Homo sapiens: one gene and its partners. The protein of the gene in region 3 interacts with the protein of the main gene of each other region in a biochemical or structural test. Each region holds a gene or a part of one and is shown on either strand. Other genes may lie near its edges.

Region 1 (5,221 bases), on a different chromosome or scaffold from region 3:
GAGAATTTCCACTAATTCTGTGTTTGGAACTTGTTGGCATGGTTCTCCAAGCCATCCGGGGCTGATCCTGGTTTTCAAGCAGAGTCAGGAGGAGGGGACAAGACAGGGCCTCATGCTCAGGGGACAGAGGCCAGGACTGAGTGAGGCTTAGAGAGGTGGGCAGACAATCCCCCCCCACCCTCTCAAGACCACTTCCACATTAGAGGGACAGGATTTGGTCTCAGGCCCACCCACAGGGCAGATGCTCCTGCACTGAAAACCTTCCCCTACCTGAGAACCCCCCCATACAGACAGCCCCCCCACTAAGAACCCCTCCCCACACTAAAAGTCCCTCCCCGAATAATCAGAACCTCTCCCCCATCCCAGAATCTCTCCCCCATATTGACAGCTCCTCCCTCCCTGCTGATAACACCTCCCCACAGCCTGCCCACCGGGAACCCCTCCCCCAACACACACCCCAAGAACCTCTCCCTACACCACCAAGAACCCCTCCTCCGACATTGAGAACCCTGCCCCCACACTGATGACCCCACTCCCCCAAACTGAGACCCCCTACACACATTGAGACCAGCTCCCACACTGATAACCCCACTCCCCCAGACTGAGAACCCACACACACATTGAGACCCCTTCCCCCACACTGAGACCCCTGCCCTGGACTAAGCCCCAAGAGCCCTGCCTGGGCAGGCGTTGGCTCTGGCGAGGACAGCGTGGCAGCCCCAGAAGACCCGCCTCACGTTCCTCTGCAGCCAGGTCTGGAAGGGCCTTGAAGCCGCTTCTCACTCTTGTCCCCTCCTTACCGTTGGGCCCAGGTGGTCCTGCCTTCCCAGGAGGTCCAGGGGGGCCACGTTCTCCTGCAATTTCCAAAGACACTGACTTGAGGAAAACTGCCCAGCCCAGGATCAAAGGGCCCACCCTGGAGCTGGCGGCTGTCATTTCCAATCATGACCATGACCCTGCTCGTGCTACGACGTGACTGTGGCCCCGCCCAGGCTTGCCCATCCTGCACCAGAAGGTTCTAGATCCAGGACCCAGGCCTCACGGGGCTCTCCTGTTCACTCAGGGGCCGGGAGCTGGAAATCCAGAGACCATGGGTAGAATCTCGGCTCTTTTCCTTCCAAGTGTGAGAACAGAGCGAAATCCCTGGACTCTCTGAGCCTCAGTTTCCTCATCTGAGACAGGTGGAGAAGAGTGTCATGGCCTCCGTGTTGAGGTGGGAAGGTGGAGGGACACAGAGCTTGAAGTCGTGCCAGCGGCCGAGCAAAGCTGGTATTGGATCAAGGACTAGGAGACAGAGCTACAGAAGCATGTCCAAATGTGAGCTCATGAAATAGCTAAGAAAGACGCTCCCTCCATGTCAGAACCCTGTTGGGCCCTGGGAGTCAGTTCTTTTCCTGGCTCTTGCAGGGGCCTGACCCAGCTCTCGATCTAGGAACCATGGTGGGGGTGTTGCCCAACTCAGCATCTGGTTTCAAAAAGAGCAAGAGCCAGTGCCCCCAGCCATGCCTGCACCTACCTCTCTTTCCATTGGTGCCTGCCTCTCCCTTGGGCCCAGGGGCCCCAGGCAGCCCCGGACAGCCTCGGAGAATGGTGAGCTTGTCAGAGCCCTCCAGGCCCACCATCTTCACCTCTGCAGAAAAACACAGGTGGCCACTCAGTGTCACCTGGGCCTGAAGACTCCACTGAGCCATAGATATACCACTCAACTGAAAGGCATCTGCCATCTTGGTGACATCAGGACTGGGCAGATGGCTATAGCCACAGCCACCTCCCTCAGCTGGAGGGTCACCTGGAAGGGAGGTTTTCCTGCCCTGGTGGGCACTTGGTCTGTCCTCACCTCTTGGGCACTGGTCAGGCAGAAAGGTGATTTGGGGCAGAACCCTGGCCTTGGAGGCTACCCTGCCTGAAGGCAAACCTTACTTCCTCAGTACTGTGTGTCCTGAAACAAGTCCCTTAACCCCTCTGAGCCTCTGTTCCCTTACCTACCGAGGGGTGCAGGTTCATTTCAGCTCCTACCATTTAAGACAGCATCCTAATCTCGTCTGTTCTCATCTATCATATCATTGTAATCAATATCGGGTGAGAAGGACACAGGGAGAGAGGCTACCATTGCAACTCCCACGCCTGATCTTGGAGCAGATCTGAGAGTGGATGGGCTCCTGTGGGTCCACCTTGTTCCTCCACAGAGGGAGGCGTCCTTCAAGGACACTGAACAAGTTGGTGCGAAACTAGAGCTGGAATGCAGCTTGTTGTTTTTAATTAGATAACTCAAATTCAAGTGAGTGTGTTACAAAAATAACACGTGCTATTATTTGATCATTTAGAAACTCTAGAAGTATTTAAGGAAGAAAATAATGCCACCCTAACCCCACCACTCCACAACGAGCCACTAGGAGTTTCCAAGCGAATCCCCGCTGTTCCTGGCCTGTGTCACACTTCACGCCACGGATTGCTCCTTGAATGCGATGCTAGTCACAGCACACCGCAGAGCTCTGTGTCTCACATGCATTCCAGAAATCCTGACACGAATCTCTGCAAGCATCAGGAGCATCACAAATTCCTGACCCTGCATCCCAGCCCCGGGTAGACGGAGTCAGGACCTGACTCCAGAACCTGCATTTTCAACCTGCCCTCGCATGCGCCGGAGCCCATGGTTTGGCACCCGAGTGTCCCCTCGGGAGCCCCGAAGGAGGTCCAGAACTCACGGGGACAATGCCACCCTTATTGTGCCGCATCAGGGACACCATGGGAACTGCCATCTCCAGAGCCCAGCAGGTCCTGGATGGAAAGGTCCTGCAGTGCTCATCCCCGCCTGACACCCTGTCTTTCCGGGTGCTTATCCCCACCTCACACCCTGTCTCTCTGTGATGGCGACCATGGCAGAATATCTGACTGGTGTCTACCCAGCTGGCACCACAAGCCTCACCTCCCCACACAACACCATGACTACGCTTTTTACGCTTAGAGGGGGACATGTGGCCCAGGGAGACTGGAAACCTGCCTCGGTTTCCATTATGGGAGGGCAAGCAGAGGAAGCTCCGTCTCTGAGATGCCACATCCATTCGGGGCCTCTGCGTTTGTTCACATAAGATGAGGCATGCAGAGCTGCTGTCTCGTTAGACGATGCTCCACACGGCCTGGTGCAAGGCCTGGAAGCCAGGAAGCCACCAATCACGAAGCTGCCAGCTTTCAGGGACGAGAAGTTTCCAGGAGGAGGCCCTGGAGTGCCCTTACCTGGACAGGTGTCTGCCGCCTGGAGAGCCCAGGCCATGCCCAGGAAAGAGAGCAGCAGGGTGGCAGCGCCCAGGACCCCCACAGCTCTGTCCAGCTCCATCTCTTCTGGTCTTTGCTTCAAAAGGTGCCTGCCCTCTTATAGGGCTAGAGAAGCCAGCCTCCCTCAGACTCCAATTTCTCATCTTCCGAGTGACAGCCGCTTCCTCTCCGCGGGCTTGGTGACGCCAGCAGGAGGTGCGAGATCATCTCCAGGGCTGCTCCCTACCCCCCGCCCCTTGGGGATCCCATGGCGACTGTCATCCCTGCAGGGGGACGGTCTCCTTCCAGGGAACAGGCTGACTTGCTTGTGGCCTTGGGCAAAGAGCCCAGGCCCATCCTCCCACCTTTGTTCAGCGGTGAGCAGATGTCACCATGAGCTGAGAACGGGGAACAAGGAAGGGTTTGCTAAAGATGTTCTGCTTCAAAGAGGTCTCTCTCCCTTATCCGAATACCTAGAGTCCTCATGGCCAGGGCTGGTCATGGGCCACTGGTGTGGGCCTTACACAGTAACCCTCACCACATCATGAGCAGACTTGGGACTCTCCTCAGGAGGCTTGGAAACTGCCACTATGAGGTCCAGGCAGGCTGCCAGGGTGAAAAGGAGAGGAAAATGCGTGTGTGTCCACTGTTTCCTGGGGCAGTATGTAGAGCACAGGGGCACATGAACAGGAGGGAAAGGAGAGAAGAGTGGGGAGCCTGGGGGACTATGACCCAGGTACACATCTGAAGGGGAGACCTTGAGTGTGAATGCAGGGGCTTAGCCTGTAGGGAGGATGAGAGTAGGTGAATTTCACTCCTAGGGCCCAGGGAACCCCCTGAGCCCTGAGGCCAGACATCCCACCTGTAGGATGGCTGTGGACTTACTTCAGTGGTTGTGTTCGCCTTTTGGAGAAGAGCTGGCCTGAAGGTGCACTCTCGCCTTGGACTGAGCCAGGTTAGAGACAGAGACAGTAGCAGGTGGGGCCCCAGAGGCCGTATACCTAAAGCCCCCAGAGACGGAACCAGCACTGCACCTCCCACTACCACCACCGCACCCTGCCACCTGCTGCCATCGGGATGCCGAGGTGCCTTCTTCCTTGGCAAGATCAGTAGAAGGATTTTAAACTGTGACCCCAGCCCAGCAAAGCCACGCGAGAAACAAAATCCCATCGGATTTTCCTTCAATGCCCATGGAGATGTGTGGTCCTGAGACTATGACTAGTTAAGACCCCCCTCGGGTTCCGTGGTGTTTAGGGCAGACCTCTCAAGACTTAATTAAGGCTATGCCAGATGCAGATGAGGTCCAGGGATGAACCTGGGGAAGACACAGGCTCCATGGAGATGCAGATATGGAACCTAGAAAGATGGCTTGGGGGCATCTTCCTCAAAGTCCTGAAGTCACCTGCAGAGGAGCCAGGTCCCCAGAGCTGCCCAGTGAAACCCCAGCAGCCAAAATTCCGAGTCCTTAGGCAGGTTCCTTTACTGCATGCTATTTGTCCTTCCTAATAGAAGCATCTTTCAAACCTAGATGACTTAAAATTAAGTCTAGAAGGCTTTAAAAGCCCAAAGACATTATATTAATATTTTAGTGTTCAGAAATCTAAAAAAATATGCTATTTAAAGTACTTGCAATAATCAAGAGAATCTGGCCTATTGGAGTGGGTGCAGGATAACTTCAACAGAAAATGGCCAATTGAGTAATTGATTTGGCAGAGTGCATTTATGCGGAAAACTTACCGAATTCATATAAACTATTGAATCACTTTATTGGAACTCTGAGTTTATCACATGCTGAATTTAAATGATTACATTTCTAGCAGTTCATATTCAGAAGGATTTTTTAAAGTTAGACAAGGTACTAAAGGATAAATGTGGTTCTATTAAATGTATAAATGCAGTAACAATGTTTGAAGGTGTTTAGTTGGCTAAGTTAAGGAATGGACCAAGAATTATTCACAGGCTCCTTATA
Region 2 (4,444 bases), on a different chromosome or scaffold from region 3:
ACTTAGAAACCTTTCCCTGCCATCTAGTTGAAAAGTACTCTTGAAACCCCCATCTATCCTATCCTGGAGAGGAAAATGAACCCTTCCATCACCTGCCTCCCCTCACCTCTCCCTGCCTCCCACATGACGTTCCAGCAACATCTAACTGCTTGTATTAATAGCTTCCTCCACACCCCATGCACCTGCCTTCTCTCTTCTTGGTCTTGGCTTAGTCTGTGCCCTCTGCCTAGAGTGTTCTTTCTCCTCCTCTTTTCCTGATTAACTCCCACTTTTCCTGTAAGACACAGTCCCAAACAGGTCCTCCTGCAAGCCATTGCTGCCTTCATCCCAGCACTCCCACAGGGCATTCAGTGTCACCGGGAGTTCCCGTGTGGCCCTGAGCACTCTCCACCACTGCTCTGCAGCTCGGCTTTCTAATTGTCTGTGTTTCTCTGCTCTGCTAGGCCGTAAGCTTCTCCCTGGGAAGGATTCTGTCCTATTCTCATCTAATAGACTACTGTGGGCCACTATCCATTATGTAATCAGTGCTCCAAAATGTTTGTTAACTGAATTAAAGATCAAATGAATGAGTCTTGTTTATAAATGCAACATGAGGACCACAGGAGCCTCTTACCAGGATGCTTTTACCAAAATGCACTCTTCATTATCAAAATTCTGTCCAACCTAGTATATGTCTCCTCCTCCTATTACTGCTAATATTAATAACAACAACAACTGCAGTAACGAACATTTGTTGAGTCCTTACTATGTTCCAGACACTGCTCTAAGCGCTTTAGATCTATTAACGTATTTCTCCTTCATAACAATCCTGGAAGGAGAGCATTATTAACCCCATTTTCCAGGTGAGAAAACTGAAGCACAGAGAAAAATAACTTGCCCAAGGTTACTCAGCTAGAAACTAGGAGAGCCTAGATTTGAACCCAAGATGCTCCATGCACATAGAAGGCACTTGGTAAATATCTAGTAAAGGAATGCATCTTACCCTGGAATGGCATGACAGGCCCTCAGGGGAGCTCTCCAGCTTCACCCGCTATTGTCAAGCCTTCACCTCCTATTGTCTAGCCTTCACCTCACCAACTTTCCTCCTCTCCCCTGACATACCACACTGCCCTTTCATGATTCTGTGACTCTGCACGCACTGTTCCTTCTGCCTGGGATGCCCTAGACCTCACCACTACCACATTCACCTGCCCACCTGTATTCTTTTTGTTTCTTTGTTTTGTTTTGTTGCGATAGGGTCTCACTCTATCGCCCAGGCTGGAGGGCAGTGTGATCTCAGCTCACTGCAGACTCGACCTCCTAGGCTCAAGCCATCCTCCCACCTCAGACTCTGGAGTAGCTGGGGCTAGAGGCATGCACCATCACACCTGGCTAACTTTTGTATTTTTTGTGGAGATGGGGTTTCACCATGTTCCCCAGGCTGGTCTTAAACTCCTAGGCTCAAGCAATCCCCCTGCCTTGGCCTCCCAAAGTGCTAGGAGTACAAGCATGAGCCACCGCGCCCAGCCCCCACCCATATTCGTCTTACTGGACTCCTATTGATCCTTTAAGGCCCAGCACAAGTGTCTTTGCTCTGTAAATCCATTAGGAGTGCCCTGCAAATTGGTTCTCAAACAAGGCACACACACAGAACAATTCTCTGTAAACATTTTTTACCTCCTACTATGTCAGGCTCACAGTGCCCATCCCGCTAAGTCCAGCATAACGCAGTCTGCAGGGCAGAGCCAGTGCTATGGGTTTAGGGGTGAGGTGGGGCAGCTGCACGCAGAAGGAGGCGTACAAATGGCCCTAAGGGACAGGTCAGCTTCCAGGACCTGATTTACACATATTTCTCCACTGTTTTAAGGTTTAGAAAGTCCCTAAGAGGAAAAACATTAAGATAATTGTTCTCGGGAGGGGGCGGGGGGGAACGTTTGGAAAAATCTGGAGACATTTTTGGTTTTCAAAACCTGGGGCAGTGGGTGGGTGTTGCTGGCATCTAGTTGGTGAAGGCCAGGAATGCTGCTAAACATCGTACAATGCCCAAGACAGCCCCCACAACAAGGAATTCTCTGGCCCAAAATGTCAACTGTGCATGGCTGAGAAACGTCATAGCAAGCCCTTCCTCCAGCATTATCCAGGAGCTGGAGAAGGAAGAAGGGTGAGCGGGGAGAAAGGAAACTAGTGCGACCCTCCCTCTGTCCCCTCCTCAGGTGGACGGCGTGCTAGAAAACTGGATCTGGCAGATGGTGGCCGCGCTGAAGTCTCAGCCGGCCCAGCCAGTGAACGTGGGGCTGGTGGACTGGATCACCCTGGCCCACGACCACTACACCATCGCCGTCCGCAACACCCGCCTTGTGGGCAAGGAGGTCGCGGCTCTTCTCCGGTGGCTGGAGGTACCGACCTGCCCCATCCTTCCTTCACCTCCCTTCCCTCCTTTCCCTTCCTCTGAGAGTGAATGAATTAAGCTGGTCTCCAACAGCAGCCCAGGCAGGAGAAGCACTAATGCTCAGCTCACAGGAATGAGAAGGCACAGGACTGACACCAGACCCCAGGGCTCTCTCAGACGCCTCCCTTGAACCCCTGTTTCACAGAACCACCTTCTCCCCTCTCCTCATCCACTATTCCTCTTATGCTCACCCCCTTAGACATGCTAAGGGATACAAACACACCCTGTAAGCTATCAAGCCCCCACACAAATGAGTGGGATCACTTCTGTAGGGCATTAGTGTCCAGGGGAAGACAGGCAGGCAGGAGGCTGCAGCTACAAGGCGAGGTCACAGGTACCTGAGTCCCAGGAGAGTCAGCCAGTTGAGAGATTAGTTTCAGTTTGGAGTGTGAATAAGGCACCTCATTTCTGAGCAGGCACGAAGAACAGGGTGGGCGCCACAACACACTGGACCGCAAAAGGCTTTCATCCAGGCAGCTCTTCTCCTGCCCCCATCCCGCTGCTGTCTTCCAGGAATCTGTGCAACTCTCTCGAAGCCATGTTCACCTAATTGGGTACAGCCTGGGTGCACACGTGTCAGGATTTGCCGGCAGTTCCATCGGTGGAACGCACAAGATTGGGAGAATCACAGGTAACCATGCCTAATAACTCACACACTGATCTCCACTCCATAGGGGCATCCAACAAGGACCTGCTTTTCCAACAGGCTCATCATTAAAACACCCCAACACTTATTGTGAGGGATCAGCGCTCATGAGAGGACTTGTGACATTCTTTCAAACATGACCAATGTCATGGATTGCTGTTCCAGAGAATTCAGAGCAAATTATAGCCTCAATTCCTATTGCCTGCCCTCAAACGAATACCTCATGTTGGTGTGCCAAATGGGACTAAAAGATGGACTTTTCTAGCAAGAAAGAGTCTTATTTTTTAATCTATAATTTACAAAGTCCAATTTGGGCGAGTTAAGGAGTGAAGAATCACAGCCTTAATTTGCTGTAATTCATCAGCCACGTTAGTGCCTCCGTTTCCACATTTGTGAAACGTGTATGTTTTAGTCTGGGACCCATTTGGGTTGAGGGAGGGAGCTCTGCATCCAAAACTTCACCCCAAACTCCATACACACTCAGAAATGGCCCAAGATATCCAGGAAGGTCTGCACATGTGCGAGGAAGGCCTTCCTCCCAGGCTTCCGTGACACCAACCCCACCCTTCACACTGCCAGGCATTGGATCCAAAAACACACAGCTGGTGAGATTGTTCCCCAGTCCAAGTCTGAGGCCCACTGATACCACAGGTATAAAACCCGGGAGGCACAGGCAAGGCCTTTCTCGGTGTGGAAGCCCCAGAGTGCCCCAGCCTCTCCTCCTGCTGATCCCTTCCCATAGCTCTAGGCTTCAACGACACAAGGTTTTTCTCTACTTCACAAACACACCATGGCCTCTTGTGCCTCTGGGCCTTTGCATGCACTGTTTGCTTTGCCCACCACTCAGCCACTCAAACTCCTCCTCATCCTTCAAGACCCAGCAGGCTCAAACAATATTTCACAGGCCAAAACAAAGAGCATTTTACATGAATAACAAAGTTGTTGCGAATTTATATTTTATCAAGTGAGGACATTTTTTTTTCTTTTGAGACGGAGTTTCGCTCTTGTTGCCCAGGCTGGTGTGCAATGGCATGATGTTAACTCACCGCAACCTCTGCCTCCCGGGTTCAAGCGATTCTCCTGCCTTAGCCTCCCGAGTAGCTAAGCCACACCCAGCTAATTTTTTTGTATTTTTAGTAGATACGGGGTTTCACCATATTGGTCAGGCTGGTCTCGAACTCCCAACCTCAGGTGATCCACCATCTCGGCCTCCCAAAGTGCTGGGATTACAGACGTGAGCCACCACGGCCGGCCATGAGGACATTTTTACAAACAACTACTATCTGCTATTACCATTCCTTTATAAAAGAATTTCTTTTAACTTGAGAAAGAATGGGGATAATGGCAGACGTTTCAACAGAATACACTTG
Region 3 (4,444 bases):
TGCAAGCGGGTGGGCATGGGGTGAGGATGAGACTCCTTCCAGGAGTGTGCCGGGAGGGTGGGGAGAGTGAGGGAGCAGCCACTGAGGGGGTCACACGTCGGGGTGGTGTGAGCAGCAGACACTGGGGAGGGAAGCTGGGCTCCAGGCCAGGCAACTCACTGCAGTTGGCGGGCTCATCACTGCCATCCACACAGTCATTGTCCCGGTCGCAGACCCAGACCCGGGGGATGCACCGTTTGGTAATGGAGCACTGGAACTGGTTGGGGGCGCAGGTCACCTCGGCTGTGGGGTGGGCAAGAGAATGAGGGCCCTCCCTTACACCTGCCACTCCAGTTCACCATCACTGTCTTCTCTCTCTTCCAAGCCCTGGCCTTGGTCCTGCCAGCAACTTCTTCGGAGGAAGGAACAGTTTATCCCCAGTTTTGGTGCTTTTTGTTTTCTGGATCTCTATGTCTCTATATCATGCATGATGATTTTTATGAGCAAAGCAAGTTACACCCAATATAATTTGTGTTGCCCATCTACTAAAGTTATTTGAGAGCCTCTCAAAGCTGTGGGGAGATTCTGCCTGCCCTGCTTCCGTGTCATCTCCCACCACCGGCCCACCACCACCTCTGACACTCACGGCAGTCCCTCTCATCCTCCCCATCTCCGCAGTTGTCCTGCCCATTGCAGCGGAAGATGCCGGGAATACAGCGGTTGGTGTTGGTGCATTTGAACTGACTGGGCAAGCAGACGTGGATGTCTGTGGAGGGAGGAGGAGGTGATTCGTGGCGAAGGGAGGACTCAGGGGCAGGGAGAGGGTGCCCATCCCTCAGCAGGGAGGACACAGGCTTGAGCCATAGGAATCCAGCCTGGAGAGCAAGCTGCCGTGGGCTGCAACTTCCCTGCACTTGAAAGCCCCAAATCCTGGGGCAGGGAAGATGCTGGGGAAGGAGGGAGGGTGGGCGGGCAGCGCCTTACCACAGTTGGCCTCGTCACTGTTGTCCTGGCAGTCATTGTCGCCATCGCAGATGAAGGCAGGGTTTGTGCAGATACCTGTGGAGCACTGGAACTGTCCGGGCCGGCACTTGAACTCAGCTGCCAGAGAGGGAGGCTCAGAGTCAGAGCGGCTGGGGTGGACACGGCCAGGTCCACTTGCAGGGCACCACAGCCCCAGCCTCTCCAGTGGCCATTCAAAGCCTCAGGAGTCAGGCCTCCGACACAGCTGGGGGCCCTCCTGTCACCCCCAGCAGGCACTCACGGCAGTCCGGGGGCTCGTCTGAGTGGTCCCCGCAGTCGTCCTCGGTGTCACACTTCCACCAGAAGGGGATGCACTTGTCGTTCTTGCATACAAACTGGAGGGCAGGTGGGGGCAAGAGGGGTTGGTGGGGGTCTGGGGGACTCAGAAGTCTTTCTTTTGAGGGGCTTGGATGTTTCAAAGAAGTTGAGGCAGGGGTCAGGGTGTTATGGGGCAGGTTGGGCTATGGTGAGTTCGGAAAGGCCAGGTATGGGGCTGCGTGGGATAGGGTGGGGAAGGCAGCACTGAAGCATGGCAAGGAGGGTCAAGGTTAGGGTGTGGAGGTGTCTGTGTGAGGTGACGGGGGTAAAAGTATTGCTGTGGGGAGACAAGAGGTAGGCAAGAAATGTGGGGGTGTTAGTGTGGGAAAACCAGATGCATGAGGACATTAGGACAGAGCAGGTGTTGGGGTCCAAGGAGGATTTGGGGGTTGGGGAGCGGGCACTGGTGATGGGGTCTGGGGGACAGCCTCACCTGGCTAGCCGTGCAGTTGGACACACAGGTGCGCCCATCGCTGCCCAGGTAGAAGTTGGTGGGGCAGGCACATTTGTGCCCTCCCCCGGGGGACAGCAGGCACAGGTTGCTGCAGCCACCATTGTTGACCTTGCAGGGGTGATTGGGCACTGCCAGAGAAAACGTCGTGAAATATGGTGACATTTTCTGGCCTACCAAAGGCTGCCTCACTCACTCTATCCTGGACAGAGGCGGGTGGGTCTGAACCCTGCCTCTTTTAGGAGGGAGCTGAAGCTGGAGATAGGAGAGGATTCTAAGGTCCCAGGATCAGGCCAGGCCTGAAGGCCAGCTCCCCACCTCCTCTGTGCTTCCCTCCCAGGGGCCGGCCTGCCTTCCTTCTGGGGGCTGGGCACCCAGACCCCCACTTGACTGGCCTCAGGGACTTGCTGCTGCCAGACTCCAGGGCTGGATCCAGGCCGGGCTGAAGCTCCCGGGAGCCAGACCATCCCCTGTCTAGACCCTCCTGGAGTCTCCCAGTGTCTGGCCAGGAGGGCTTGGTCAATGCTAGAGAAGGGATGAGCAGGAACTCCCAGGGACCCCGGTGCCTGGCTCACCGTTCGCCTGCTCCCACCCCTTGCCTGCTCACCGTCTGGCTGGCGCAGGGCATGGAAGACATGCAGGTCCATGGGCCGGTGCAGCGTGCTGATGAGGAGCGTTTTGTTGGTGCCCGTGGTCTTGTGGGCTCGGTTAATGGACTTTGTTTCCCAGTCGGTCCAGTAGACGTAGTCCTCAAACAGGGTCAGTGCAAAGATGTGCGGGATGTCCTGGCTCAGCACTGCAGGGCCAAGGGGCAGGCACAGTGCCAGTCAGCCGGAGCTCGGACAGGGTGCCGGCCCACTCCACCTCCTCAAGCCCTACCACCACCCTGAGAGGTGGGTGTCAGCCCCAGTTACAGATGGTTCATGGTACAGACCCCCCATGGTCTCACAGCTAACAAGTGTCAGAGCTGGAGTTCAAACCTAGACTGCCTCATGGCAAGTTCCTGCCCTGCCAGTGTATGGCTCCCCTCGGGAAGTGGGGAGCACTGCAGTTCTCAATCGCAGGCCTCCCACCCCCACCCTCCTTGGGGCCAGTCCTCCAGAACTGTGTATACAAGGGAAGGGCCTCTCCTCTTCCTTCCCAAGGGAGCTGGGTGGTGGCCAGGCTGGGGAAGCCCCCGGGGTGCTCTGAACCCCACACCCCAGTGAGTGGTGTCCTCAGGCCATATCCTCCGCTTTTTATGTCCACTCTTGCCCCCAAAACTTGATCCCCTGTCGCTTCAGACCTCCATCCCCACTGAGTCTGCTGTGCCTGGACAGCCTCACTGGCACACTGACCAACGTGGCGATTGGAGCCATCCAGGCTGGCAAATTCAATGTAGTCCTCGCGGGCGTCGGCCCAGTAGATGCGCTCAGTGACATAGTCCAGCGTCAGGCCATTGGGCCATGTGATCTTGGTGTCCACGATGACGCTGCGGCTGGACCCATCCATGCCGATGCGGCCGATCAGTGAATGGTCACCCCAGTCTGTCCAGTACAGGTACCTGGCGATGGGTAGGCAGTGAGCCCTGGGAGATCCCGTAACCCATCGCACCAGTGGCCTGCAGGGAGGCTGGGCTTGGATGCTGCTTTCAGGGGCTCCCCCAACCCTCCTCAGCCACATACCCATTCTGCACATCCACCACCAGAGCCCTGGGCTCACGGAGGCCAGAGCTGACCAGCACCGTCCGATAGGCCCCATTGAGCTTGGACACCTCGATGGTGTCCCGGCCTTTGTCGCACCAGTACAGGTTGCCACCCACCCAGTCCACAGCCAGCCCATCGGGGTTGCTGAGGCCTGTACGGTGTAGGACCTGCAGGAAGGGGCAGGGGAGGGAGAGCTCTGGGTGACCTGGGGGAGGACCTGCAAGCCTCTGTGAGGCTCAGCCTCCCCTCGTGTAAAATGGGGTAGAGCTCCCTCTGACAGCTCTGGTGGGAGAACCATGGAAGTAAAATGCCCAGTCCTGGGCCTGACACTGTGTAGGTGTCAGCAGAGGCTCTAGGAGAGGGGGCTCTAGGTGAATGGGACCACGCCCCAAGCCTCACAGTGCTTGGCCAGACCTCACAGGGAACTTCCTGATGATTAAGGAGACATGAGGCTGGCAGCGAGGGGAAGGGCAAGAGGAATCTCCCAGTCCTTGCTGTCTGGGCCCAGAGGAGAGTGAGCAGCTAGAACAAGCAGTCATATAGTGACTAGTGGAGTGAGAAGGAAGCAATTTGGGTTGGTGGGGCGGGAAGGAGAGACGATCTGAAAACAGTCATCTGAGGCGGGCCAGTGTTGGTCGCCGAGGGCCGCCCGCCTCACCTGCACATTGCTCCCGTTAAGGTGCATCCTTCGGATCATGCTGCCCTGGGTGGTCACATCTGTCCAGTAGATCATCTGCTCTCGGTAGTCAAAATCCAAGGCAACGGCGTTGTTCAGGCCCTGGATTTGGGGAGTGAAGGACAGCAGAAGTCGGTTGTGGCAACAGGGGCCACATTTGCATCTGGGGGAGGGATGGTTGGACCTAAGCGGGGAGACTTGCAAGGGAGGCTGTGCTGGGTCTGGGAGATGGGCAGCGGGGAGGAGGGCCTGGGTTTGGTACCTGCTTAAGTAACGTGTAGTTGGACCCGTCCAGGTTGAGCTTGCGCAGGT

What was found. Proteins that work in one complex are often made in the same cells at the same time.
Region 1: the proteins of LRP1 (region 3) and FCN2 form a complex in vitro, tested with the Homo sapiens proteins (one study listed by IntAct).
Region 2: the proteins of LRP1 (region 3) and LIPC form a complex in vitro, tested with the Homo sapiens proteins (one study listed by BioGRID).

The regions. Positions count from the first base shown.
Region 1 is NC_000009.12:134,878,935-134,884,155, reverse strand, and holds the start of FCN2 (ficolin-2 isoform a precursor), read right to left. Parts: upstream 3,347-5,221; 5' UTR 3,335-3,346; coding exon 3,235-3,334; intron 1,631-3,234; coding exon 1,517-1,630; intron 855-1,516; coding exon 801-854; intron 1-800.
Region 2 is NC_000015.10:58,539,593-58,544,036, forward strand, and holds part of LIPC (hepatic triacylglycerol lipase precursor), read left to right. Parts: intron 1-2,192; coding exon 2,193-2,375; intron 2,376-2,941; coding exon 2,942-3,059; intron 3,060-4,444. UniProt on the Homo sapiens protein: Catalyzes the hydrolysis of triglycerides and phospholipids present in circulating plasma lipoproteins, including chylomicrons, intermediate density lipoproteins (IDL), low density lipoproteins (LDL) of large size and high density lipoproteins (HDL), releasing free fatty acids (FFA) and smaller lipoprotein particles.
Region 3 is NC_000012.12:57,197,335-57,201,778, reverse strand, and holds part of LRP1 (prolow-density lipoprotein receptor-related protein 1 preproprotein), read right to left. Parts: coding exon 4,395-4,444; intron 4,235-4,394; coding exon 4,115-4,234; intron 3,624-4,114; coding exon 3,436-3,623; intron 3,315-3,435; coding exon 3,109-3,314; intron 2,568-3,108; coding exon 2,379-2,567; intron 1,903-2,378; coding exon 1,754-1,902; intron 1,338-1,753; coding exon 1,244-1,337; intron 1,081-1,243; coding exon 964-1,080; intron 746-963; coding exon 626-745; intron 283-625; coding exon 160-282; intron 1-159. UniProt on the Homo sapiens protein: Endocytic receptor involved in endocytosis and in phagocytosis of apoptotic cells. Required for early embryonic development. Involved in cellular lipid homeostasis.